4 linked regions of the Homo sapiens genome follow. The protein of the gene in region 1 interacts with the protein of each later gene in a pairwise test. Each region holds a gene or a part of one and is shown in the gene's direction. Other genes may lie near its edges.

Region 1 (7,331 bases):
TCCCTGCGGTCTGGCTCTCAGCAGCCTCTTCTGTTCTTTCAGTGCCCAGGACCTGGGGCTGTTTGGGGAAAGGGCTCACCTCAGCCTCTCTCTCCTCATCCCCCTCCTCCTCTAGGACCCAGACTTTTCCAGTAGCCTCTAGGAGCCTTTCTCCTGGGACTGCTCCATATTCTGTCTGTCTGACTCCCAGCAGGTCAGCCTCCTCTTTGCCTGAGGTTGTCCAGGCCTCGTCCCCTCCTGAGGCTGTCCCGGCCTCCTCCCCTCCTGAGGCTGTCCCGGCCTCCTCCCCTCCTGAGGCTGTCCCAGCCTCCCCGCCTGAGGCTATCCCGGCCTCCTCCCCTCCCGAGGCTGTCCCGGCCTCCTCCCCGCCTGAGGCTGTTTCAGCCTCCTCCCCGCCTGAGGCTGTCTCAGCCTCCTCCCCGCCTGAGATTGTCCTGGCTTCCTCCCCATCTAAAATTGCCCTGGCCTCTTCCCTACCTGGGGTTGTCCTGGCCTCCTCTCTGCCTAAGATTCCCCAGTCCTCAGGCTCTGCCCCTGGGCCCCACGTCCCCCATGCCCTAGTGCTTTCACAGGCCTTCTCCACCACTACCACCTCTTCTCCTTTCCCAGCCCCTTCGGCCCCAGGCTCCTCAGTTTCCCCTGCATCTGCCTCCCTGACCCCCTGCTCCATCTCCCGGTTGTCCCCTGCCGCCTTTGGCCCAACAGCACCAGCCTTCCCCTCCGTCTCCCCATGCCAGGTCCACTCTGACTCCGCCCCTCTGGCCATCCCTGGCTCTCTTGCCCTGACCTCTTCCTCCTCCTCCTCCTGTTCCCAGCTTCTCAGCCTCTCTTCTCTGTTCACTTCCTGCTCATGGGACTCCTGCCTCTCCTGGGCTTGGCCGCTCCTGTCTTGGCAAGCCCCAGACCCTGCCTTGGATTTCTTTCTGGCCTCCAAGTGGGCGCTTGGCTCCTGGCACCTGGCAGCCTTGGCTGTCTCCCCAGCCCCACTGTCCTGCCTCTCTGCTTGGGACCCATGGGAGCTGCCATCTCCCCAGCCCCAGGTCTGTTCTACAGCTGAGCTCCCCACTTCATGTCTTCTGTCATCTCCAGGCCCTCTCAGCCTTCCAGCCCCCTCGTTTTGGCTGCCTCTAAGGCCCTCCAGGTCCTCCTGGGCTTCCTCCTCTACAATCTTCCCTGTCTTTCCCACCGCCACCACCCCCAGTTCCTCAGCCGCCTGCGCCTCCCGCTCTACAGTGGGGACTGCATCTCCCAGGAGGTAGGAGACAAAGGTGCCGAGGGAATCCTAGGAAAAAAGAGAGAGAGAGGGGAGAGTCATTGAGGAGAGTCCCAGCCCTTTCCCTGGGGGCCCTGGCTGGAGGAGCCCAGGTTAAGGAAGAGGGTACTGGGATCTGAAAGGAGAAGAAGAGGATTTGCAGAAGGAGCCAGAAGGGGCATCGATTAGGGGTACGAGGACGCATGGTTGGAGGTGGGGACTGAAATTCAGAAAATATTAGGCCAGGAGTCTGCCTGAACCTGAGAAAGCAATCTCCAGTTTGAGGAGATCAGAAGGAGGAGGGGAAAGGTGAGGCCCCAGGGGAGGTGCCCGGAAGTGAGGCCCCAGGGAATGGGGTGCAAGTATCTGGCAGCTGTCTGCCCTTCTCACCAGTGCCCCCCTCAAGGCCTGGTGCAGCCCAGGGAGGTATAGCCGGAGGAAGTCCATCCTGTCTGTCTCTGTCTGTGTGTCCAGAAAGCTGATAATGACCGTCCCCACCCACCAAGACAAGCCAACCTTCCCCAGGACCAAAGGCACTTCCTCTTCCCCTGTCTCCCTGATGCGTCCCCACCCCAGGCCCTGCCCACGGCCCCTGATGCCCACAGTAGCCCCCACTGCAGCCCGGGAAATGGGTGTACATCACACAGGGGACTCAGGTGCACATTTGGAAATAAAGGACAAGCAAGAGGCCAGAAAGGACAAAGTGGGAGCAGGAGACCTTAGAACTGGGGAGGGGGAGAGGGAGGGGACATGTGGCAACAGCAGCTCAAGTGACTCAGGTCTCGTATCCGCACCTCAGCCATTTCTGCCTCCCCTACAAGCCACAGCCACTCTGCAAGAGGAAGCTGGGGTTTGTGGTTCCTGTTTTGCCTGGGAAGAAAGAGTAGCAGTGAAGAGGGGGCTGGTGGGAGCTCTGACACATTTCGGCGTCATTAATGCTTCCCCCAGGGGCGGAAGGGGCCGGATTGGTGGCTCTGGGGTGCATCCCCTCACCTATGATTAGGCTTGCAAAAAAGAACTTGGCTAAACTTTATATTGTGGATATCTGTGTCTGCCTCCCACCTTCCTGTGACTTCCTTGATGGCAGATGCCATGTATGAAACGCTGCTGAATTTCTAGAGCCCTGCACGTTAGTAGGATTCCATTTTCCATCAGCTGAGTGACCTGGGAGGCACACTAGAGAGGGCACATTTCTTTTCTTTTCTTTTCTTTTTTTTTTTGAGACAGTCTCACTCTGTCACCCAGGCTGGAGTGTAGTGGCGCAGTCTCAGCTCACTGCAACCTCTGCCTCCTGGGTTCAAGTGATTCTCCTGCCTCAGCCTCCCGAGTAGCTGGGATTACAGGTGCGTGCCACCACACCTGGTTAATTTTTGTATCTTTAGTAGAGACAGGGTTTCACCATGTTAGCCAGGCTGGTTTCGAACTCCTGACCTCAGGTGATCTGCCCACCTTGGCCTCCCAAAGTGCTGGGATGACAGGCATGAGCCACCACACCCAGACGAGAGGGCACATTTCCAACTGCATTCTGAAGGCCTGGTGGTGAGAAAGAGCATATAGAGGTGGCACAGCCCATAGCAGAGATGAGGCCAAGGACAAGAAGAGAATGCAGGATGCCGCTTTCCACCTAGAAGAAGGTAAGGGTATGATTCCTTATTTGGAACTACATAAAGTGACCTTGCTCTACTTCTCTTCCCCATACCCTCCTTCTCCCCTCCCCAGCCCCACTTTCCTATTCCAATTAGGGCAATTCTATGAAATCACAGCATCAGAATCTTAGGCCTTAAAATCATTTAGTCTGGCCAGGTGCAGTGGCTCACGCCTGTAGTCCTAGCACTTTGGGAAGCCAAGGCAGGTGGATTGCTTGAGCTCAGGAGTTTGAGGCCACCCTGGGCAACGTGGCAAAATCCAGTCTCTACAAAAAACACAAAAATTAGCTGGGCACAGTGGTGCGCACCTGCTGTCCCAGCTACTCGGGAGGCTGAGGTGGGAGGATCACCTGAGCCTGGGAGGTCAAGGTTGCAGCAAACCAAGATCCTGCCACTGCACTCCAGCCTGGGCAACAGAGCAAAACCCTGTCAAAAAAAAAAAAAAAATCTGGTCTAAGCACCACCTTTGATGGAGGCAGGAATCCTGCAGCAGCCTGGAGCCAACCCAATGGCTCCCTGCCTCTGGTGCTCTATTTCTTATCACCATACAGGTCTCTAAGGTCACCTTTAGGTCTAACATTGTATGAATGATTGTCAGCAACTTTCCAATTTTTTTCATATACATATATTTTTTTTATTTTATTTTTTACTTTTTCTTTTTTTGAGACAGGATCTCACTCTGTCACCCAGGCTGGAGTGCAGTGGCGTGATCATAGCTCACTGTAGCTTCAACCTCCTGGGCACAAGTGATCCTCCCACCTCAGCTTCCAAGGTACCTGTGACTACAGGAATGCGCCACCATGCCCGGCTAATTTTGTTATATATATATATATATATATTTGTACCTTGGTTTTCTCATCTGTAACACCAGGGGTTGAAGTGCTGTGATATTTTTTGGTTCTAGGATAATTTGGAAATAGGGATCTCTTAACATCTTGGATACTGCCAATAGATCATTCACGAAATCCCTTTAGATGAGTGTTATGTTTACTTAGGTCTCTAAAACAATTTGTAAGGTCAACAGATGGGGATAAGAATGACCTGAAGCTGGTCGTCTTTGTTCGCAACCAGAAACAGTCCTGCCTCAAAAAAAAAAAAAAAAAAAAGGGAGTAGGCAGGTGGCCATATTTGTTTCTGGCAAGTGAGTGCTGAAGGAAAGGAGCTGAAGCCTCCCACAGTCATAACTGGTGCTGGCAGGCTACTGTCTCGGTCTTGGGCGCCACTGATCTAAGGTCACGGCTCTGCTTGCTGCTCCCACCCGCTCCAGTTTAAAACCTGCGGTTCCAGGGTTCTCCAGCCCCTCCCTTTTTCACGCTCCGAAGCCGAGAAGGCCCAAAGCGAAGACAGAGAGGACCCGGAAGTAGGGAAAACCTCTGAGCACGTGATGGGGGAACACGCGGGTGCTGTCACGTGATCCGACAAACGGCCTCTGCATAGTGCAGAACATTCTGCTGCTCTTAAAGGTACAGGCCTCAGGGTCCCTGCTGTAGACGGGGCGGGGGAGAGTACGATGGGTGGGGCGTGGTGGGTCGTAGGGCGCTCGAGATGGAGCCCCCAGCTTCCTTGATGGATCGCGGGGCGCGAGTGCCCTAGACAAGCCGGAGCTGGGACCGGCAATCGGGCGTTGATCCTTGTCACCTGTCGCAGACCCTCATCCCTCCCGTGGGAGCCCCCTTTGGACACTCTATGACCCTGGACCCTCGGGGGACCTGAACTTGATGCGATGGGAGGCTGTGCAGGCTCGCGGCGGCGCTTTTCGGATTCCGAGGGTGAGTATTCCCGCCCACCCTCATGGAACGACCACCTCTGGCTCGCAGCCCACCTGAGGGGAATGAGAGCTGACTCGGCCCCGGGAGGACACGCAAGGAGCGGTCGTGCACCTGAGAGTAGGTGGGGGTCATGCCCTCTTCTCGCTCTCCCAGGGGAGGAGACCGTCCCGGAGCCCCGGCTCCCTCTGTTGGACCATCAGGGCGCGCATTGGAAGAACGCGGTGGGCTTCTGGTGAGTGGCCTGAGACTTCAGCGAGTGACAATGGCATGAGAAGAGGGAAGTGACCGGAGGAAAGGGGGAAGAAAGAGTTAAGCTGCGCAAAGGAGCTGAACCCACAAATATTTACTGAATCCACTGGTTTGCCCCAGGGGCAGCATGTAAAATTTCCAAACTTCACTCCTTATCACCTTCCGGATTTAGCAAGATCCTCATACCTACCACCTGTAGGATTATTTACTTTTTTCTTCCAGCCAATTCAGCCTTAACGTTTTTTAGTGCACATATTTTTAAAAAGAAAACTTTAAATCACGACTCCACTTGGAAAACCAGCGTTTTCCTAGTGAACGTTTAAATAAATGCATCACTACTAAAACTTTTTTATTTTTTTAATTTATTTTATTTTATCTTATTTTTTTTTCTTTTTGAGACAGGGTCTTGCTCTGTTTCCCAGGTTGGAATGCAGTAGTGCAATCACAGCTCCCTGCAGCCTGGAACTCCTGGGCTCAAGTGATTCTCCCACCTCAGCCTCCAAGTAGGTGTGGCTACAGGTGTGCACCACCGCATCTGCCTAATTTTTATATTTTTTTATAGAGATGGGGGTCTCACTATGGGACCTGGGCTGGTCTCAAACTCGTGGCCTCAAGTGATCCTCCTACCTCAACCTTCCAAAGTGCTGAGATTACAAGCATGAGCCACCATGCCGGGCCTGAACCTTTTTTTTTTTTTTTTTTTTTGAGACGGAGTCTCTCTCTGTCCTCCAGGCTGGAGTGCAGTGGCGCAATCTCGGCTCACTGCAAACTCCGCCTCCCAGGTTCACACCATTCTTTTGCCTCAGCCTCCGGAGTAGCTGAGACTACAGGCGCCTGCCACCACGCCCGGCTATTTTTTTGTATTTTTAGTAGAGATGGGGTTTCACCGCGTTATCCAGGATGGTCTCGATCTCCTGACCTCGTGATCCGCCCGCCTCGGCCTCCCAAAGTGCTGGGATTACAGGTGTGAGCCACCGCGCCCAGCTTTTTTTTTTTTTTTTTTTAATTTTATTTTATTTTTGAGACAGAGTCTCACTCTATCACCCAGGCTGGAGAGCAGTGGCACAATCTCGGCTCACTGAAACCTCCACCTCCAAGGTTCAAGCTATTCTCCTGTCTCAGCTCCCCGAGTAGCTGGGATTACAGGTGCGTGCCACCAGACACAGCTAATTTTTTGTATTTTTAGTAAAGACAGGATTTCACCATGTTGGTCAGGCTGGTCTAGAACTCCTGACCTTAGGTGATCCGCTTGCCTCCACTTCCCAAAGTGCTGGGATTACAGGCGTGAGCCACCGTGCCCCGCCCTGACATAGGGGCTTTGGGATCACAGACTTGGATTCACTTCCAGCCTCCAAGGCCTCTCCCAGAAACTCTCTGTGACCACTCTCCTTTTTTTTTTTTTTTTTTGAGATAGAGTCTCGCTCTTGTAGCCCAGGCTGGAGTGCAATGGCACAATCTCGGCTTACTGCAACCTCCGCCTTTCGGGTTCAAGTGGTTCTCCTGCCTCAGCCTCCTGAGTAGCTAGGATTACAGGCATGTGCAACTTCGCCCAGCTAATTTTGTATTTTTTAGTAGAGACGGGGTTTCTCCATATTGCTCAGGCTGGTCTCGAACTCCTGACCTCAGGCGATCCGCCCGCCTCGGCCCCTCAAAGTGCTGGAATTACAGGTGTGAGCCACTGCACTCGGCCTCTTCCTTTTTATTTTTTATTTTTGTGACAGGGTCTTGCTCTGTCACCCAGGCTAGAGTGCAGTGGCATGATCACAGTTCACTGCAGCCTCTGACTCCTGGACTCAAGCAATCCTCCCACCTCAGCCTCCCAAGTAGCTGGGACTACAGTGCAAGCCACCACACCTGGCTAATTTTTAAATTTTTTGTAGAGATGGGGGTCTCACTATCTTGCCCAAGCACCAAAGCCTGTATTTTTGACCCCAACATTGAATGAGGATGGGATCTGGTGATAGAGGGAAAAAAAAGAGGGGGCTGATTGAAGGGCACAGGTAAGGGAAGGTTTGGCACAAAGGCTACAGATGGCTGCAGGATGAGGAGGGAGTTGAGACCTGTCCTGCTCCTTCCAGGCTGCTGGGCCTTTGCAACAACTTCTCTTATGTGGTGATGCTGAGTGCCGCCCACGACATCCTTAGCCACAAGAGGACATCGGGAAACCAGAGCCATGTAAGTGACTCTCTACCACCACCACCATGGTTAGTCCCTGTGGGAAGATGAGGGGGTGGGACAAGGTGGGGTAAAGTTTCCAGTCTCTGGCTGGGCACAGTGGCTCACACCTGTAATCCCAGCAGTTTGGGAGGCTGAGGCGGGCGGATCACTTGAAGTCAGGAGTTCGAGACCAGCCTGGCCAACATGGTGAAACTCCGACTCTACTAAAAATACAAAAACTACCTGGGTGTGGTGGCA
Region 2 (7,030 bases), on another chromosome or scaffold:
AGGAACCAGCTTTTGTATTACCCTCCTGGAAATGAAAAATGCCAGGGTATTTAATGAAAGAAGGGATCCTTGGGAGCCAGAAGATTCACATGGACATGAAAAGGTACCAAACCCATCCAACTGAGTTTGTCCGCAAGCTCTGGGCAAGAGGCAATCACAGCTTTCTTCAGCCCATCATCTGTGCGTGGTTCTCTGCTAGCCAGTGTTGGCAAATCAAACAAAGGCCCAAGACTGAGTTTCTTATTCTCCTTGGTAATTAAAATGTAAATGCTTCTTAATGCTCTCATCATATGAAAAGGCTGGAAGATGCAATCCATTTCTAGAAAGTCTTTCTGTCAGCCAATTAACCCTATGTATCAGGCCCAAAGAGTGTTGCAAGAGGTTTCTACTTTTTCCGTCATGTCACTTTCCTGTTCAGAGTCACCTCAGAAGAACAAAAGACAGTCCCTTCTCTCAGCTCTTCCTTGCCCATGGCAACCTCACCCCCAGTGCAAGCAGTCAGGCAGTCACTGGAATCCATCCACTTTCGCCTCCATGTAGTTGGAAGAGATTTGAAAGAAACAAGCCTTTCTCAGGCCCACCCCATAGTGATGCTCTAAGATAAACACGTCTGTTTCTTGCCAGTTATGACCTAGCTGGTGCAAAATTAATCTTGGTTTTTGCCATTGAAAGTAATGGTAAAAACCACAATTACTTTTTTTTTTTTATTATTATACTTTAAGTCCTAGGGTACAGGTGCACAATGTTCAGGTTTGTTACATATGTATACATGTGCCATGTTGGTGTGCTGCACTCATTAACTCATCATTTACATTAGGTATATCTCCTAATGCTATCCCTCCTCCTTCCCCTCACCCCATGACAGGCCCCAGTGTGTGATGTTCCCCTTCCTGTGTCCAAGTGTTCTCATTGTTCACTTCCCACTTATGAGTGAGAACGTGCAGTGTTTGGTTTTTTTGTCCTTGCGATAGTTTGCTAAGAATGATGGTTTCCAGCTTCATCCATGTCCCTGCAAAGGACATGAACTCATCCTTTTTTATGGCTGCATAGTATTCCATGGTGTATATGTGCCACATTTTCTTAATCCAGTCTATCATTGATGGACATTTGGGTTGGTTCCAAGTCTTTGCTATTGTGAATAGTGCCACAATAAACATACATGTGTATGTGTCTTTATAGCAGCATGATTTATAATCCTTTGGGTATAACCCAGTAATGGGATGGCTGGGTCCAATGGTATTTCTAGTTCTAGATCCTTGAGGAATCGCCACACTGACTTCCACAATGGTTGAACTAGTTTACAGTCCCACCAACAGCGTAAAAGCGTTCCTATTTCTCTGCATCCTCTCCAGCACCTGTTGTTTCCTGACTTTTTAATGATCACCATTCTAACTGGTGTAAGATGGTATCTCATTGTGGTTTTGATTTGCATTTCTCTGATGGCCAGTGATAATGAGCATTTTTTCATGTGTCTGTTGGCTGCATAAATGTCTTCTTTTGAGAAGTGTCTGTTCATATCCTTCACCCACTTTTTGATGGAGTTGTTTGATTTTTTCTTGTAAATTTGTTTTAGTTCTTTGTAGATTCTGGATATTAGCCCTTTGTCAGATGGGTAGATTGCAAAATTTTTCTCCTATTCTGTAGGTTGCCTGTTGACTCTGATGGTAGTTTCTTTTGCTGTGCAGAAGCTCTTTAGTTTAATTAGAACCGATTTGACAATTTTGCCTTATGTTGCCATTGCTTTTGGTGTTTTAGACATGAAGTCCTTGCCCATGCCTATGTCCTGAATGGTATTGCCTAGGTTTTCTTCTAGGGAAAAACCACAATTACTTTTACACCGACCTAATATAATGTACAGAATCACTAGTTGAATCACCTTTCCTTCTGTGTCCTATAAAGGGCTCTTTTCTGTTAATCTTGCTTGGCCTGGATTGTTCCTTGTTCCTCCCAAAAAAGGGGGTGGGTGAACATCTCATTCAGGAAGAGGTATATATTGTGGAAATTAAAGAAATAGGAAAAAGTTGCATATGTTGAAACAACATTTGACAATGCTTTATAGTTTACTGAGCATATGCATTTTCTTTTCTTTCTTTCTTTCTTTTTTTTATTTTTTATTTTTTTGAGATGGAGTCTTGCTTTGTTGCCCAGGCTGGAGTGCAGTGGCGTGATCTGGGCTCACTACAACCTCCACCTCCCAGTTCAAGTGATTCTCCTGCCTCAGCCTCCCAAGTAGCTGGGATTACAGGCAGCTGCCACCACACACTGCTAATTTTTGTATTTTTAATAGAGGTGGGGTTTCACCATGTCGGCCAGGCTAGTCTCAAACTCCGGACCTCAGGTGATCCACCTGGTTCGGCCTCCCAGAGTGCTGGGATTACAGGTTGAGCCACTGTGCCTGGCCGAGCATATGCATTTTCTTATGTGGCATCTGTGCTGTGAGAATAAGTTTCCATAGGCCTGATATTAGCCTGAATTTTTCTGCTGAAGTTCGTGAACCACACTGACCCCTAGTCAAGGCATGAAGCATGCTGATTAATAGTGTTGCTTTGGCTAGGTGCGGTGGCTCACGCCTGTAATCCCAGCACTTTGGGAGGCTGAGACGGGCAGATCATGAGGTCAGGAAATTGAGATCATCCTGGCTAACACGGTGAAACCCAGTCTCTACTAAAAATACAAAAAGTTAGCCAGGCGTGGTGGCGGGCACCTGTAGTCCCAGCTACTAGGGAGGCTGAGGCAGGAGAATGGCATGTACCCGGGAGGCGGAGCTTGCAGTGAGCAGAGATCGCGCCACTGCACTCCAGCCCGGGGGACAGAGCGAGACTCCGTCTCAAAATAAAAATAAAAATAAAAAAAGTGGGCCGGGCGTGGTGGCTCACGCCTGTAATCCCAGCACTTTGGGAGGCCGAGGCGGGCGGATCACGAGGTCAGGAGATCGAGACCATCCTGGCTAACACGGTGAAACCCCGTCTCTACTAAAAATACAAAAAAAAATTAGCCGGGCGAGGTGGCGGGCGCCTGTAGTCCCAGCTACTCGGGAGGCTGAGGCAGGAGAATGGCGTGAACCCCAGGGGGCGGAGCCTGCAGTGAGCCGAGATTGCGCCACTGCACTCCAGCCTGGGCGACAGCGAGACTCCGTCTCAAAAAAAAAAAAAAAAAAAAAAAGTGTTTCGTTGTAACCGTGGGTCCTAGGAGTTTCTGAATGGTTTGTAGCAGCTTGTAAGCGTTGTTTATTGATAACAGTGGGATTGATTATTTGCACCTGGTCTCAACGAGGACCTTCTGTGGGTTCTGCCGTTGAGGCCAGTTATAGAACAAGAATATGCCTACAGCAAAATAGAAAAAAATCCCAGTAAAGACTCCATAATTCCAAGATATTTGTGCATACATTGGCTGTTCCTGATCCAAGACAGTGCATTCTTCCGTCCCATAGAGAAAAGACAACAGTAAGAGCCTAGCCTGCACCTGGCCTCTGTGGATCTCCTGCTGAGGCAGCCTTCAGCTGTAGTGCATATCCTTACTTTCATGTTGTTGCTATGCTGTATCCGTTTTCTGTAATAAAACTGTAGATTTATAAGCATTGTCACTTGGGTCCCATGAGTCTTCTTTAGCAAAGGAACCCTGTTTAGTGGCTACTGTTAATGTAGCACCATAGCCCTGAGAGACAGAGTTGACAGGAACCCCCAGAGAAGTCAAGGGACCAGCCTAAGGTCACACAGTCAAGCAGTGGCAAAGCTAAGACTTGAAGCCAGGGGTCTGATTCCAAATCTCTCGTTCTTTTCACAGAACTGATTTTGTTCACTGCTGTTTGATTAGGTACTAGAGAGAATGAAGAGGTAGCTATTGAGTGATGGTCTCAGGGAGTCCTGCTCTGTGTATTGAAAGCAGAGCTCTAAGTTAGAGCAGCTACACCCCAAGAAGAAGATGGCATCACCCCACATTCTTGACCCGCATCTCCACTTTCAGTGTCAAAGGTCCAGGGTGGCCAACTTCCTCCTCTCTGAGACTGTGGAAGGCTTAATTATCCCAACATAGGCTCCCAGGGAAGCCCCATTGGTCCATTTCTGGAGAGGCAGTGATTCAAGGGAGACAAGTGAGCACATCCTGCATCCAGATCTTAGCCACAAGCAAGATGTTTCAGTGGGCGCCATGGCTGACAATAAATCTTTTGCATGCTCTTTCTTTTCCAAAGTACGTGCTTCAAGCAATTCTAATTTGATTCTTAATTAAGATGCATGTGTAAGTCAAATTCCATTAGAGCCTCCTTCTTGCTCTCTAGCACTCAGACCACCAAAGAAAGCCTGGAAGACCAGCCATGGAAGGAAAGTATGCGGTGTTTTAGGGAGAGCTGGCACCTGGCCTCTAATCTTCCCTCTGCCATTGACCAGATGGGTGCCTTTGGATACATCACTTAAGCTTACCTGTATAACAGATGGGTTTAACATTTTGTGAATATTGTATCTTATTCATTACTCTATTTTTAGGGTATGGACCCTAGTCACTTATTATCCTTGCTATTGCTATTATTACTACTACTACTTCTTTTACAAATAGCAATAGAGCTGGAGAAACCGGATTTTGAATTAAGGTCAGGAGAACCCAGCTTGGCTATCTTTTTAAAAAAATCAGTATCCCCAGCACTTTGGGAGGCCGAGGCAGGTGGATCACAAGGTCAGGAGATCAAGACCATCCTGGCTAACACGGTGAAACTCCGTCTCTACTAAAAATACAAAAAAATAGCCAGGCATGGTGGCAGGTGCCTGTGGTCCCAGCTGCTCAGGAGGCTGAGGCAGGAGAATGGCGTGAACCCGGGAGGCAGAGCTTGCAGTGAGCCAAGATCGCGCCACTGCATTCCAGCCTGGGAGACAGAGCGAGACTCCATTTCAAAAAAAAAAAAAAAAATCAGTATCCCTAGGACTGCCTAGGTCTGCCTCAAAGGACTGCCTAGGACTGCTAGGTCTGCCTAGGTCTGCCTCAAAGTTTTAAGGATTCATTTGCATGACCCTGGCACACACGGCCTTGCCCTGGGAAGAGAGGCCACCTGAAAAAATGTAGATCATTTCTAGCAAGAATATCGGCAGAAAGGGCATATCCAAGGACAGTCTGGCTTTCACCATACATGGGACAGGCGGTTCCCAATAAAAATTGCTTGAGAGTCACTGGCTATATCCACTTCTTCAAAAATATCTCTCACTGCCATTCAAAATATGACCATTCAAGGAGGACGATAAAAAACACTCTGATTTAAGGAGACATCATGGAGCTGTCCTTGGAGTCAGATGCCTAGGATTGGAATGCTGGATCTTTCATGGAATTAGTCTCTCAGACCCAGGAATTATCAAAGTTATGATCAATTCAAGAAAATCAGTGGATATACTTCTAGCAAAGCAAACCAGGAGCTATCAGCAGGCAATATTTGGGGAGCATGGCTTCTCTACAGTCCCCAGCTCCCCAAAGGAGCTGCACTAAGGTTGGGAGGCACAGTGATCTCTCCACTCGGGGTGAGGCTGTGGAGAGCCCTGAGTGGAGCTTAGCAAGTCCCTTCTACCTGAGCTCACACCACGCTCACACTCCAGCACAATTCTTCGTGTTGTTCCAGAAACAGCCTCTTACAAATCACATCATCAAGATCTAACATCCAGGTTAAAGGTCAATTTCTTACCAGCCCCCACAGCCATGTTGTTGCAGTGTCCCAGGGTGACTGAATAACTATGATGCATCCTATGTGCATGGTCATGTGACAGGCATGGAGTGACCGACTGTCTGTAGTAGGTATGTGTAGTCTGTTAGGTACAAGATCCAGATACCATGAGCCAGGGCCCTCCATGACTGTTCCCTGAGTGGTATAATCTCAGATGTGTGCAATGGTGACAGCAGTATAATCTCAGATGTGTGCAATGGTGACAGCAGTATAATCTCAGATGTGTACAATGGTGACAGCAATACCTATGTCGGAGGATTGTGCTGGGATTAAGGGGATCAGGCAGTCAAGGAGCTAGCATGATGCCAGCTGAGCAGGTGCTTGATAAATGAAATGGGTACTTATTTTAGTCTATTCGTTTGGGCTAGGCACGATCTTACCCTAGGCTATTATTGAGAAAAACATAGCAAGTTCTAACTTTGCTTGTTGCCTGGAGGGGCACGAGTCACTGGAGAGGGTTGGAGGGGGCAAGGGAAGAATATGGGTGAGAATGTGGGCATCCCATGAGACAGATTGCCAACTTTCCATTTCCTGTACAGCTGTCCTTGTCTTGCTAAACAGTGAGGGAACACTCTCATGAACAGCTCAGAGAGGTATGCATTTGCGAGAAAAGAGAATGGGAGGGAATTATGCCCCAAATACCCAACCCATCAAAGCAATAGAGTATTTTGCTCATTTTGAAAAACTGTTTTTGAGAGCTTTGTCTCTAAATACTCCAACCATACTCTTTCACTCCTGGTTTTTACCATAAGAATGCTATAATATCAAAGTCAATTGTAATAGATTTTTAAAAATCTATTCATATTCGCATCACCCTAAACTTCAGCTGTTTTGATATTTCTGAGTCCTTGCACAGTCCTTGTCCATAAAACTTGATAATTCTGCGAGCGACAATAACTTATGCATTATGCATTTTAGCCTCTAAACTAAATAAGATGACTTTAGATTTTAAAAGCTTGTATCAGTGAATGTGCTTATATTTCAATTTTTTCCTCTTTTCCATTTACTCCTCTGCACTCACCCCACCCCGCACCAACTGAAATAAAACATCCTGGTTTGTTTGTTCCTAGAACATTTATACCTTTCAGTGGGACAGAACCTTCTACTGTCCCTACCCACTCCGTGCCTCCTACTTGTTCAGGGTTTTCTTCTCAGGGTCTGATGGTGGCTGAGATTGGGAAGCTGGCTGGGAAGGGGGACCTGTGTAAATCTTGGCTCTGTTATTTATTATTTGCTGTGTGGATTTCAGCTCAGTTTCCCCATCTGTAAAATGACATTAATACCTGTCTGAGAGGAGTGTTTGAGGAGTAAGTGAAATACAGGATTTTACAT
Region 3 (7,030 bases), on another chromosome or scaffold:
CCGCTTCTCTGTTACCTCCCCCGACAGTAAACTGCTCCATGTGCCAGTGGCCAAGCGGCATCCAGGGCCGTGTGAGGGCAGCCTGCAAGCCCAGCAACCACATGCGACTCCCACCCCCTCGCTGAGCACCTGCTCCGGGCTCTGCCGGGAGACCCTCCTGTGCACTCTTGTGCACCTTCACCTGGAAGTATGCTGTGTCACTGGAGCCCTCACCCTGCCTAGCCCCTGCCATGGGGACAGCCGTAGAACAGAGGCTGTGGATGTGACAGGGTTCCTACACTTTGGCATTCAGAGCATGGAGTTACAACTTGCCATGGTTGCACTGTGTATGGCCAAGGAATTTAGAACCAGCGTGCACTCAGACATGGGCTGGCTGGACTTGGGGTCATCTGTGTATTACCTTTATGAATGGAGACTAGCCAGTGGCCTAACAGGACATTCCCACCATCTCCTAGTACTGTCACTACTGTAGCCAACACACAGAGAGAGGCTAAGGGATACTGCATAGGGACATTCCTCAGCTGCTAGCAGCAGGCTCTGTGGCTGAACATGAGGGCTTCTCCGCAGCAGACAGACAGACCACCTGAGGGGCCCATGTCAGCTGAAGATAAGGTGGAGGACAGCGGTGCCTGCCCAGGGTCCCCAGGAGAACGGTGTGCTCCACGCCTTTGCTACCCACTAGGAAGGCCTGTCTGACCCAGGGCTTCAGGGATAACTTAGAATCTTCACTACTGTGTAAACCATGCCCAAGCTTCAGTGATTATTATTCCCTAAACTTGGGCATAGTAGAAATATAACAATGTTTCTCCTTGTTTTTTAATTTTTATTTTTTTTGTTTTATTTTTAGACAGGCTGGAGTGCAGTGGCACCACCATAGCTCATTGCAGCCTCGACCTCCTGGCCTCAAGTGATCCTCCTACCCCAGCCTCCCGAGTACCTGGGACTGCGGGTGCATGCCACCATGCCCAGCTAATTTTTTTATTTTAATTGTTGTAGATGCAAGGTCTCACTATGTTGTCCAGGCTAGTCTTGAAATCCTGGCCTCAAGCAATTCTCCTGTCTCAGCCTCCCAAAGTGCTGGAATTGCAGGTGTGAGCCACCACACCTGGGTGTTGCTTCTTTAAAATATTTTCATTGGCCGGGCTCGGTGGCTCACGCCTGCAATCCCAGCACTTTGAGAGGCCAAGGCGGTCAGATCACCTGAGGTCAGGAGTTTGAGACAAGCCTGGCCAACATAGCGAAACCCCGTCTCTACTAAAAATACAAAAAAAAAAAAAAAATTAGCTGGGCATGGTGGCGGGTGCCTATAATTCCAGCTGCTTGGGAGGCTGAGGCAAGTGAATCACTTTGAGCCCAGGAGTCAGAGGTTGCAGTGAGCTGAGATTGCACCACTGTACTCCATCCAGCCTGGGTGACAGAGTGAGACTCAATCTCAAAAACAAAAACAAAATATATATATATATACACACACACACACACATATATATATATACACACACACACACATATATACACACATATTTATATACACATATATATACACATATATACACACACACACATATATATACACACACACACATATATATATATATATTCATTGTCTTCAGTTATACACACACATGACTGGAGTCCAACACATTCGCAGGGTGCACGTTGGAAAACCAGCAGGTGACCACCACCTTGTCTGCTGTAGCCAGTCACCTGTGCTTGTTTCCATGTCCCCCAGAAGCTTGCTTCCACTTTTCCACCCCCTGCCACAAGTGAGAATTTGGGACTCCCTCAGACATACAACGTTCCCGTCCCCCCAGCCCCCCACCCATCCCCCAGGAGGCTGAGGTGGGAGGATCGCTTGAGCCCAGGAGTTCAGCTTTCCAACAGACTCTAGGCTTCAGGTTGGATAAGGCCTTGGTTTACTCTGATTTGTGAACTGGACCCCTCGCTGAGGCTTGTTGTCCATTGCGATGATCTTTTCCTTTCCTTTGCCTACGGTTAACATTGGTCCTGATGATTAGTTTGTCTGTGTTCTGTGACCTCATTATTCATTCAAGCCCAGGCCCTTCTCCAGTCATCTGAACCTGTTGCCCGGCATCTGCCAGAGGAGGCCCCCCCACCAGCCTCCCACAGCTCCATCCTCGCTGGGGCCTGGTGCCTCTGGGGCTTCCTCCCCTGTCTGCTGGGCTGGGCCTTCTGGTTCTGGGATCCCTGATCTGCCTTTCTCTTGCTTTACTCTCTGTGTGTTCAGGGGCTTACTGCCCAGCTGCTTCCTATAAAAGAGGATGTGAGCTGTAACTTTGGAGCGTTTGAGCACCTGGGAGTGTCTTTATTCTGTTTTTACTCTTGCTTGATCCATTGTAGGGACCAGCACCCCCAGGGGGAGCTGTTCTCCTTCAAAGTTGGGGGTCGCTTCGTTCCCTGGGCCTCCTGCCTCAGGCGCTGCTGCAGAGCAGGTGCCCCTGCTGACACTGACCCGTGATGGGTCCCGATTTTGCTTTTTCTGTTTGGCTTTGCTTTCCTCTCTGAAAGTTTATAGGATCCTCTGCACCCAATTTGCTGAAATTTCACCATGATCTATGCTTGCAGCTAAACTGCAGGCTGTTTTCATGCATTGTGCCAAGCCTTGGTGGACACTGGAAATCTCTGCTTCCATTCTGGGAAATCGTCTTTCCTGATTGCTCCTACCCACTTTCCTCTGTTTTCTCCCGTTCTTCCCGAACTGCCTGTGTCCCAGCATTGGCCCCTCTGGAGTGCAACTCTCATTATCCTCTGTTCTCCCCTATATTCCAGCTATTTGCCTTCTCATTCCACTTCATGGAAGATTCCATTTGCTCTCCCAACCTTTCTTTTTAAGTCTGTCATTTTGCTTTCTTATTTTTAATTTCCAAGAGCTCTTTCTTTTTTCCAGTTACCTCTTTTTTGGGACATCCTATTCTTATTTTAGTGATGGAAGATTTGTAATCTCTGAACCTAATAGTTGTTGTCAAATTTTTTTCTCCTGGGATAATTTTTGTTCTTCCAAATCGCTTTCCTCTGTCTCTGTCTCTCTCATGGTACAGACTTCTTCCAGTCCCGAAAATCTAACACTTGAGGGGCCTCGGGGCCTTGGTGCATGGCCCTGTCCCTTGCACTCTGACCGTCCTCTGTCCCACTTCGCTGGTACAGCCCCTTTCTCACCCCTTTCTTTCAGAGTAGCCTGGGAGGACCCCAGGGTGCAGGGAGGGTTTCACCTTTAAACCTTCCAAGAGGTAGGGGGAAAACCTGCTTTCTACCAACTGCTGTAACAAAACAGTTGAAGTTGTCACATGGAAACCATTTAAACAGCCATATTCTGTCATATTAGTAGTAAAGTTTCCCATGCCAAAGGCGATGGCCACACACAGCATGTCATGACTCAAGAGTTGAGCACCAGGTTTGGGCGAGGTGGCCCTGGGATTACACCTGTAATCCCAGCACTTCTGAAGCCCAAGGTAGGAGGATTACTTGGGGCCAGGAGTTGGAGACCAGCCTGGACAACATAGCGAGACCCCATCTCTATAAGTATAAAATAAATTAGCCAGGCATGGATTATTCCGAGTGGTCCCAGCTACTCAGGAGGCTGAGGTGGAGGATCGCTTGAGCCTGGGAGTTTGGGACTGCAGTGAGCCATGATGGCGACTGGTGACAGTCTGAGACTCTGTCTCTAAAAACAACAACAAACAAAAAGCTGAGCATCATTCCTCTAGCTATTTAATCTGGAAGTTTTCAAGCACCTTTGCCATGCAGATGCTTGGCAGAATAAACATAGAGCACCTCCTTTATTAAAAGAGTACCCCAGGCGTCTCCAGCGGCAGCACTGCATTAAATGGGTCTAGGACACCATATATATTTGAATATCTTTCTCTGGCATCAGTATCAGCTACCATGCCACTCCTGCCACACATGCAGACACATGCGCATGCACTCACACAGGTTCACACACTCACACAGGTGCACACACAGGTGCACACCCTCACAGGTTCACACATACAGATGCACACCCTCACACAGGTGCACACCCTCACACAAGTTCTCACACAGGTGCACACCCTCACACAAGTTCACACACACAGGTGCACACCCGTGCATGCGCTCACACACGGGCACACACTCACCCTGTGCTGACCTGAATGGATGCCGTCAGTCTCTTAGGGAGGCTCTGTGCCTGTTGGAGGCGTGAATTTCAGTGGAAGCCACACAGCAACTGGAACTAGAACCTGGGCATTGATTGGATGTCACGCCCCACACTCTCCTTTCCCCATAGGACTTTGTGGTTGGCCTCTCCATCCTGCTGCGGGGCACAGTCCACGAGAAGCTCAAGTGGGCCTTTAATCTCTACGACATTAACAAGGATGGCTACATCACCAAAGAGGTAGTAGGGGGCTGGGGGCAGGGATTGTCCCCTCCTCCCCTCCTGCTGCTCCACCCCTCCCGCCGCTCTTCCTCTCCCTGCTCCTGCTGCCCACCTGTCTTCTCCCGCTGTCCATCCAGAGACTGGCCCCAGGGACAGCAGCCAGTGGGCTCTCCTCTCCTGGGCTCGGTCCTGGACACCCCGGTGTGGAGTGTGGGTTCAGGTACCCTGTACCACACATCTCGGTCCAGCTCAGCAAGTGTTCTCGGTCATACTGTCTTACACAAAAGGCCTCGGGGAGATTTAAGTGGAGAAGCCAGAGGTCCTGGCCTTGGCCCCCATCAAGTGAAGGGGGCAGTGCGGTCCCTTAAGGCATGGGTGGAGAGGGGAGCCCTCGCACATGGGCCCACAGACAGGTTTTGTTTGGTCCAAGCACTTTTTCTGCTGCCGCGTCACATTTTGGAGATAAGCACATAGCAATCCATCTCCCACTTCTCTGGGAGATGAGCTTCCCCTAGAGTCAGAAGCTCGCTCTGGGTGCCCTGGAAGCGGACAGGCTTCTCTCTCCAGCTCGTCCGGCCCCTCGCACTCACTGCCTTGGAGGTGCCCTGCACCCTTGGATGCCGCCCGCTCCCTTTGGGCCCTCACAGCCACCCCGGCCTTGCAGCAGGCTCATGCCAGCCTCCCCCTCCAGGAGATGCTGGCCATCATGAAGTCCATCTATGACATGATGGGCCGCCACACCTACCCCATCCTGCGGGAGGACGCGCCGGCGGAGCACGTGGAGAGGTTCTTCGAGGTGAGCGAGCGCCAGCCCTGCCTAGGGAGGGGAGCCTGGCAGAGGAAGGGGCTCTCGCTTTTGGGGCCACCCCGGGCAAGTGGCTTGCCCCTCTGAGCCTCCCTACTCCCCATGAGGAGGTTAAACTTGCCCCTCCAGTCTGGCTGGTTGTCAGAACCCCTGAGAAGTGAACTACACCACTGCTCTGCCCTGTGGACCTCATCTGGGGGCCAGAGCTGGGGATCCTGAGGCAGCTGACCCTGGGCCGGAGCTCCATGCCTCCTGAGAGCTGTGTGGCTCCTCCAGGAAGACGCTCTGGGAGAGGAGCAGGTTGGGGGCCTTCACCTGTATGCATGGCGGCTGCAGGGGCTGCAGGCTTTGCCTCCTACTTGCTGGGGCCACTAGACATGGGCCATCCTGTGACTCAGTTGCTCCCTCTGCCCTGGCTGCCTCTCAGGGAGGTGAGGCGGTCAGATGAGCATGGGGACAAATTCTGGGAAACCCAAGCCCAGGAGGGCTCAGGGAATTGGCCTAGGGGAGCAGTGGGGAGATGCTTGGAGCCTCAGCAGTTGGTTGGGAGGTGGCTATGAAGGGTGGATTATGTGGCCTGGATCCAGAGTAGTCACAGGGGACAAGTTAGAGTGGAGGGAGCCCACCCGCCCATCCACCCACCCGCCCATCCACCCACCCATGACTTCTGCGTCCTCAGGCCAGGGGCGGGGCTGTCTCTGCTGGGGCACAGACTCACTTTGGGCATGGCTTGGGTTGCAGAAAATGGACCGGAACCAGGATGGGGTAGTGACCATTGAAGAGTTCCTGGAGGCCTGTCAGAAGGTAGGTGGCACGGGAGGCTGGGCCACAGTTCTCTGCAGGCTCTACACGGAGGTGGGTGGTTGGCAGCGTCTGCCCCTTCCCTCACCCCAGTCCCACCCCTGCCAGTCCAGGATGTGGCAGCTGTCCTTGGCCCCTTGCCACCTCCTGGACAGCCCCAAGCTCCACTTGCCCTCTTGTCTGAGTCTCCTCCTCCCCACCCACCCCTGCAGCCCACAGCATCCCCCCACTACCCCCACACCCTCCCTCAGCCCAGTCCCTGGAGAACCTCAAGTTAGGGGCAGACATGGGGCCAGCCAGAGGGAGAGGGTCACCGTGGGGAGGCACCAGAGCTTCCGCAGTGTTGCTGCTGGCCCTTCCAGAGAGCACCTCAGGGGGCAGGATGCTGGGCCTCCAGCGCCTCTATTGCCCCACTCCCAGAGCAGTCCTGGTTAGCGCCCACCTCCTCTGGAGGCCAGCCGGGATCGCCTTCATCAGCTCATCCCAGATGGGCTTGCAGTCAGGAGTGGGGTTGAAGACAGGCTGTGCCTCACCAGCTGGGGACCTCGGACCAGCTACTTCACCTCCCTGTCCCCCAGCTCCCTGCACCCAATAAGACAGACAGACAGGCAGTCGCTGCAGGCTCCGAGTCCCTGGCGGGAATCTGCTCAAGGGGGTCGGATTTGGAGCCCACCCAGCACCTGAAGGCCTCCCTTCCTCTCTCCATGCAGGATGAGAACATCATGAGCTCCATGCAGCTGTTTGAGAATGTCATCTAGGACACGTCCAAAGGAGTGCATGGCCACAGCCACCTCCACCCCCAAGAAACCTCCATCCTGCCAGGAGCAGCCTCCAAGAAACTTTTAAAAAATAGATTTGCAAAAAGTGAACAGATTGCTACACACACACACACACACACACACACACACACACACAGCCATTCATCTGGGCTGGCAGAGGGGACAGAGTTCAGGGAGGGGCTGAGTCTGGCTAGGGGCCGAGTCCAGGAGCCCCAGCCAGCCCTTCCCAGGCCAGCGAGGCGAGGCTGCCTCTGGGTGAGTGGCTGACAGAGCAGG
Region 4 (5,437 bases), on another chromosome or scaffold:
AAACACAAATATGTATATAGGACTTTCTTCTTCCTATCCAAATCAAACTTTTAAAGACAAAACTTGAGTTTTTAAAGGGTCATTTTAACACTTCTTTTTGAATTTTTTAATTTATATATAATTCACATACCATAAATTTCACACTCATAAAGTATGTACACTTTAAGTGGTATATTAACAAAGTTTTGGAACCTTCCCTGCTACCTGGTTCGAGAACATTTTCATCACCACAAAAAGAAAGTCAGTATCCATTAGTAGCCATCCCCCATTTTCCCCCCACAGGCCCCTCCCAACCACTAATCTCCTCTCGTTATGGACTTCTCAATTCTGGACATTTCATATAAATGGAATCATACAATATGTGGCCTTTTCATGGTTCATACATGTTGTAACCTGCATCAGCATGTCATTTCTTTTTTATGCCGGAATAATAGCCCACTGTACGGAAAGAAACACATTTTGTTCATTCATCTATCAGTTGATAGACATTGGGTTGCTTTCACTTTTGAGCTATGATGAGCAATGCTGCTATAAAATTTCTTGTATGTTTCTGTGTAGACATATGTTTTCATTTCTGTATACCTGGTGACTACCAAACCTATTTCTAAAACAGCTGCACCATTTTACTTTACCACCATCAGTGTTTAAGAGTTCAGTTTCTCCACATCCTCAGTAATACTTGTCATTGTCTGCCTTTTTGATGATGGCCATCCTGGTGGTATCTTGTCGTGGTTTTGATTTGCATTTCCTTAATGATGATTTGAGCATATTTCCATGTGCTTATTGGTGCCTCGTCTGTCTTCTTTTGAGAAATCTCTGTTCAGGTTCTTTGCCCACCCCCCCCGCCCTCTTTTTGCAAACTCTGCCTCCCGGATTCAAGCAATTCTCCTGCCTCAGCCTCTTGAGTAGCTGGGATTACAGGCGTGCACTACCACACCCGGCTAATTTTTCTTTTTTTGTATTTTTAGTGGAGACGGGGTTTCACCATGTTGGCCAGGCTGGTCTCGAATTCCTGACCTTGTGATGCACCCGCCTCGGCCTCCCAAAGTGCTGGAATTACAGGCGTGAGCCACCACACCTGGCCTTCACTTTCTTCATAGTTTTTTGAAACACAAAAGCTTTTCTTCTTGATAAGTCCAATTTTTCTATTTTTTTTTTAACGGTCACTTATGTTCTTAATGTTATACCTAAGAAACCATTACCTAATCCAACTACATGGAAACTACTTTGTTTTTGAAAACCTTATGAAATAATATAGTAGAAGAAATTGCATTCTCGATTTTGTCTTGGTAGGCTTTGGAAGTGATAAAGCAGTTAAAAGAGAAAATGAAGATAGAACGTGCTCACATGAGGCTTCGGTTCATCCTTCCAGTCAATGAAGGCAAGAAGCTGAAAGAAAAGCTCAAGCCACTGATCAAGGTCATAGAAAGTGAAGATTATGGCCAACAGTTAGAAATCGTAAGAGTCAAATATTTTCTTTGCTTCATGTTACCTAAATATTGTATTCTCTAGTAATAAATTTGTAGCAAACATTTAGATGTTGTAAACGTCAGATATTTTCTTTTCTTTTTTTTTTTTGAGATGGAGTCTCGCTCTGTTGCCCAGGCTGGAGTGCAGTGGTGCTATCTCAGCTCACTGCAAGCTCCGCCTCCCGGGTACACGCCATTCTCCTGCCTCAGCCTCCTGTGTAGCTGGGACTACAGGCACCCGCCACCAAGCCTGGCTAATTTTTCGTATTTTTTAGTAGAGACGGAGTTTCACCGTGTTAGCCAGGACGGTCTTGATCTCCTGACCTCATGATCCACCTGCCTCAGCCTCCCAAAGTGCAGGGATTACAGGCGTGAGCCACCGCGCCCAGCCAGATATTTTCTTAAGACTAAAGGTTGGTCAGCCTTGTTTACCACAAATCCTTTTATTTTTTTCCCAGCATTTATTTTTGTCATATATTATGCGTAGTGTTTTAGATACATGATTTTAGCAAATTTAGCAACTATTTAAAATAAGCCACTTAAAAATTGCTATTTTAGTGGAAGATTGATAATTCCAATTACCTTAAAAATTTTGCAAAAATTAGTACAAAGCACACTATGGAAATTTACATTGAGTTTTCAGAGATAGCTCAATTGCATGCTTTACTCCAGTGCTGATCATAATCCTAAAAGACAATCCCAAATGCCACAATCCCAATGTTGAAATCATAAAAAAATCAAAATCTCTAAAGTCCAAAGCCTGAACTTCTAATATCTTGAAAATCACAGTTCCAAAAGATTGAATCCTGGCTGGGCGCGGTGGCTCATGCCTGTAATCCCAGCACTTTGGGAGGCCAAGGCAGGTGGATCACCTGAGGTCGGGAGTTCGAGACCAGTCTGACCAACATGGAGAAACCCTGTCTCTACTAAAAATACAAAATAGTCTGGCGTGGTGGCACATGCCTGTAATCCCAGCTACTCGGGAGGCTGAGGCAGGAGAATCACTTGAACCTGGAAGGCAGAGGTTGCGGTGAGCCAAGATTGCACCATTGCACTCCAGCCTGGGCAACAAGAGCGAAACTCCATCTCAAAAAAAAAAAAAAAAGATTGAATTCTGAATGATGAAATTCTGAAAGCTGAATTCTGGCAAAAGGATTAGCACTCTTTGAGTTGTATGCAGGATAGTCGCGTCTGGTTAATTGCATCATGTGAGGAAAAGCTAGGACCTTGTTATTGTCTTCATTTGAAAATTAAAAATGGTTTAAAGAGATGAGTCTGGGTGCCAAGTTGATAAGGGGTGGAATTGTGGATGTAATTTTAGGTGTCAACTTGACTGGAAAGGAATCCCTAGAAGCCTGATAAAGCATTGTTTGGGGTATGTCTGTGAGGGTGTTTCCAGAGGATATTAGTGTGTGAACCTGGTGACACTAAACACAGAACATTTTAAAGAAGCAGCGAAACCATTATGTCCTTATGACCTCACCCCACAGCTTCAAACACAGTGTAAATTGAGCTGTCTACAAATTCATGTTTTCAAGGCTTTGCAGCTTATTTATTTATTTATTTATTTATTTATTTTTGAGACAGGGTTTCACTCTTATTGCCCAAGCTAGAGTGCAATGGCGTGATCTCAGCTCACTGCAACCTCTGCCTCCCGGGTTCAAGCGATTCTCCTGCCTCAGCCTCCCGAGTAGCTGGGATTACAGGCATGTGCCACCTCGCCCAGCTAATTTTGTATTTTTAGTAGAGACGGGGTCTCTCCATGTTGGTCAGGCTGGTCTCGAACTCCCGACCTCAGGTGATCCACCCGCCTCGGCCTCCCAAAGTGCTGGGATTACAGGCTTGAGCCACCGCGCCCTGTCTGCAGCTTCTTTTTAAAAGTAAATGAGCTGTAGAGAAGTGTTGAGTATGTGAGTATCCACTGTAGATGTGAACTAACTCATCTGACACTACTTGAAGTTCTAAAATCTTTGCAAAACTGTACACATGGGCCAGGCACAGTGGCTCGTGCCTGTAATCCCAGCACTTTGGGAGGCCAAGGTGAGCAGATAACATGGTGAAACCCTATCTCTACTAAAAATACAAAAAATAAGCCAGGTGTGGTGGTGGGTTCCTGTAATCCCAGTTTCTTGGGAGGCTGAGGCAGGAGAATCACTTGAACCTGGGAGGCGGAGGCTGCAGTGAGCCAAGATCACACCACTGCACTCTATCTCAAAAAAAAATAAATTAACATACACATGGTGTCTACATAAGTCTTCACATTGCTTTTTCTCCTTCATACGTGGAGGTGACTTTACTGAGCTATAAAATGTAATGCTAAATTTTAGTATGAGAAGAATCAGAGTTTTCTAGTTTGTCCCTTCCATTTACAGCTGAAGAATCAGAATAAGTGTTTAAACATAGGGATTAATGCCTTGTCACAGGGGGCTACATGGACACTTGAGGGCAGAGGCTAAACTGGAACCCAGTGTGCCGCCCTACCCATTGTCTTATCTATTGCACCATAGAACTGTGGTATTATTAGAGATCTGGACAGCATTGTGCTTGCCTCAAAGGAAGTTAAAGCTGAGTTTATTCTGTGTCTTGCTCATCCTCATGTGGTAATCTGCTACGTTAAATGTTTCAGGTATGTCTGATTGACCCGGGCTGCTTCCGAGAAATTGATGAGCTAATAAAAAAGGAAACTAAAGGCAAAGGTTCTTTGGAAGTACTCAATCTGAAAGATGTAGAAGAAGGAGATGAGAAATTTGAATGACACCCATCAATCTCTTCACCTCTAAAACACTAAAGTGTTTCCGTTTCCGACGGCACTGTTTCATGTCTGTGGTCTGCCAAATACTTGCTTAAACTATTTGACATTTTCTATCTTTGTGTTAACAGTGGACACAGCAAGGCTTTCCTACATAAGTATAATAATGTGGGAATGATTTGGTTTTAATTATAAACTGGGGTCTAAATCCTAAAGCAAAATTGAAACTCCAAGATGCAAAGTCCAGAGTGGCATTTTGCTACTCTGTCTCATGCCTTGATAGCTTTCCAAAATGAAAGTTACTTGAGGCAGCTCTTGTGGGTGAAAAGTTATTTGTACAGTAGAGTAAGATTATTAGGGGTATGTCTATACAACAAAAGGGGGGGTCTTTCCTAAAAAAGAAAACATATGATGCTTCATTTCTACTTAATGGAACTTGTGTTCTGAGGGTCATTATGGTATCGTAATGTAAAGCTTGGATGATGTTCCTGATTATCTGAGAAACAGATATAGAAAAATTGTGCCGGACTTACCTTTCATTGAACATGCTGCCATAACTTAGATTATTCTTGGTTAAAAAATAAAAGTCACTTATTTCTAATTCTTAAAGTTTATAATATATATTAATATAGCTAAAATTGTATGTAATCAATAAAACCACTCTTATGTTTATTAAACTATGGCTTGTGTTTCTAGACAACTTCCTAACTCCCTTTCTTTTCTCTGCCTGTGTCTGTGGTAGGGTTAGGGAGTTGTCAGGAGAACTGAATAAGTCCATATGAAGAGTGCTTAGAACAGGGCCTGTACTTGTAAACACCTGAAAAATTTTTGCTAACACTTGGGATGTAATTGGGAAGAATTATTTTAGTATTTAAACACTTAAATGGACAAGATGCAAGCTTTTAAAAATCTACTTCAAGGCCAGGGGAGGTGACTCACACCTGCAATCCCAACACTTTGGGAGGCCGAGGCAGGCGGATCACCTGAGGTCAGGAGTTTGAGACCAGCCTGACCCACATGGTGAAACCCTGTCTCTACTAAAAATACAAAAATTAGCCAGGCATGGTGGTGCACGCCTGTAGTCCCAGCTACTCGGGAGGCTGAAGCAGGAGAATCACTTGAACCCAGGAGGCAGAGGTTGCAATGAGCTGAGAATGTGCCACTGCACTCCAGTCTAGGTGACAGAGTGAAACTCGGTCTCCAAAAAAAAGAAAAAAAA

Evidence for each region.
Region 2: the proteins of CLN3 (region 1) and CDHR3 interact in binary tests that used the Homo sapiens proteins (3 or more experiments, as listed by UniProt).
Region 3: the proteins of CLN3 (region 1) and KCNIP3 interact in a two-hybrid assay, tested with the Homo sapiens proteins (one study listed by BioGRID).
Region 4: the proteins of CLN3 (region 1) and SBDS interact in a two-hybrid assay, tested with the Homo sapiens proteins (one study listed by BioGRID).

Annotation. Positions count from the first base shown.
Region 1 is NC_000016.10:28,489,050-28,496,380, reverse strand, and holds the start of CLN3 (battenin), read left to right. Parts: upstream 1-4,306; 5' UTR 4,307-4,361; exon of another isoform or gene 4,362-4,545; 5' UTR 4,546-4,621; coding exon 4,622-4,667; intron 4,668-4,820; coding exon 4,821-4,899; intron 4,900-6,994; coding exon 6,995-7,091; intron 7,092-7,331. Other genes in the region: APOBR (apolipoprotein B receptor), read right to left, coding at 1-1,282, 1,643-1,699.
Region 2 is NC_000007.14:105,966,259-105,973,288, forward strand, and holds part of CDHR3 (cadherin-related family member 3 isoform 1 precursor), read left to right. Parts: intron 1-7,030. UniProt on the Homo sapiens protein: Cadherins are calcium-dependent cell adhesion proteins.
Region 3 is NC_000002.12:95,377,317-95,384,346, forward strand, and holds part of KCNIP3 (calsenilin), read left to right. Parts: intron 1-4,279; coding exon 4,280-4,387; intron 4,388-5,060; coding exon 5,061-5,165; intron 5,166-5,915; coding exon 5,916-5,978; intron 5,979-6,685; coding exon 6,686-6,733; 3' UTR 6,734-7,030. UniProt on the Homo sapiens protein: Calcium-dependent transcriptional repressor that binds to the DRE element of genes including PDYN and FOS. Affinity for DNA is reduced upon binding to calcium and enhanced by binding to magnesium. Seems to be involved in nociception.
Region 4 is NC_000007.14:66,987,158-66,992,594, reverse strand, and holds the end of SBDS (ribosome maturation protein SBDS), read left to right. Parts: intron 1-1,293; coding exon 1,294-1,458; intron 1,459-4,095; coding exon 4,096-4,224; 3' UTR 4,225-4,915; downstream 4,916-5,437. UniProt on the Homo sapiens protein: Required for the assembly of mature ribosomes and ribosome biogenesis.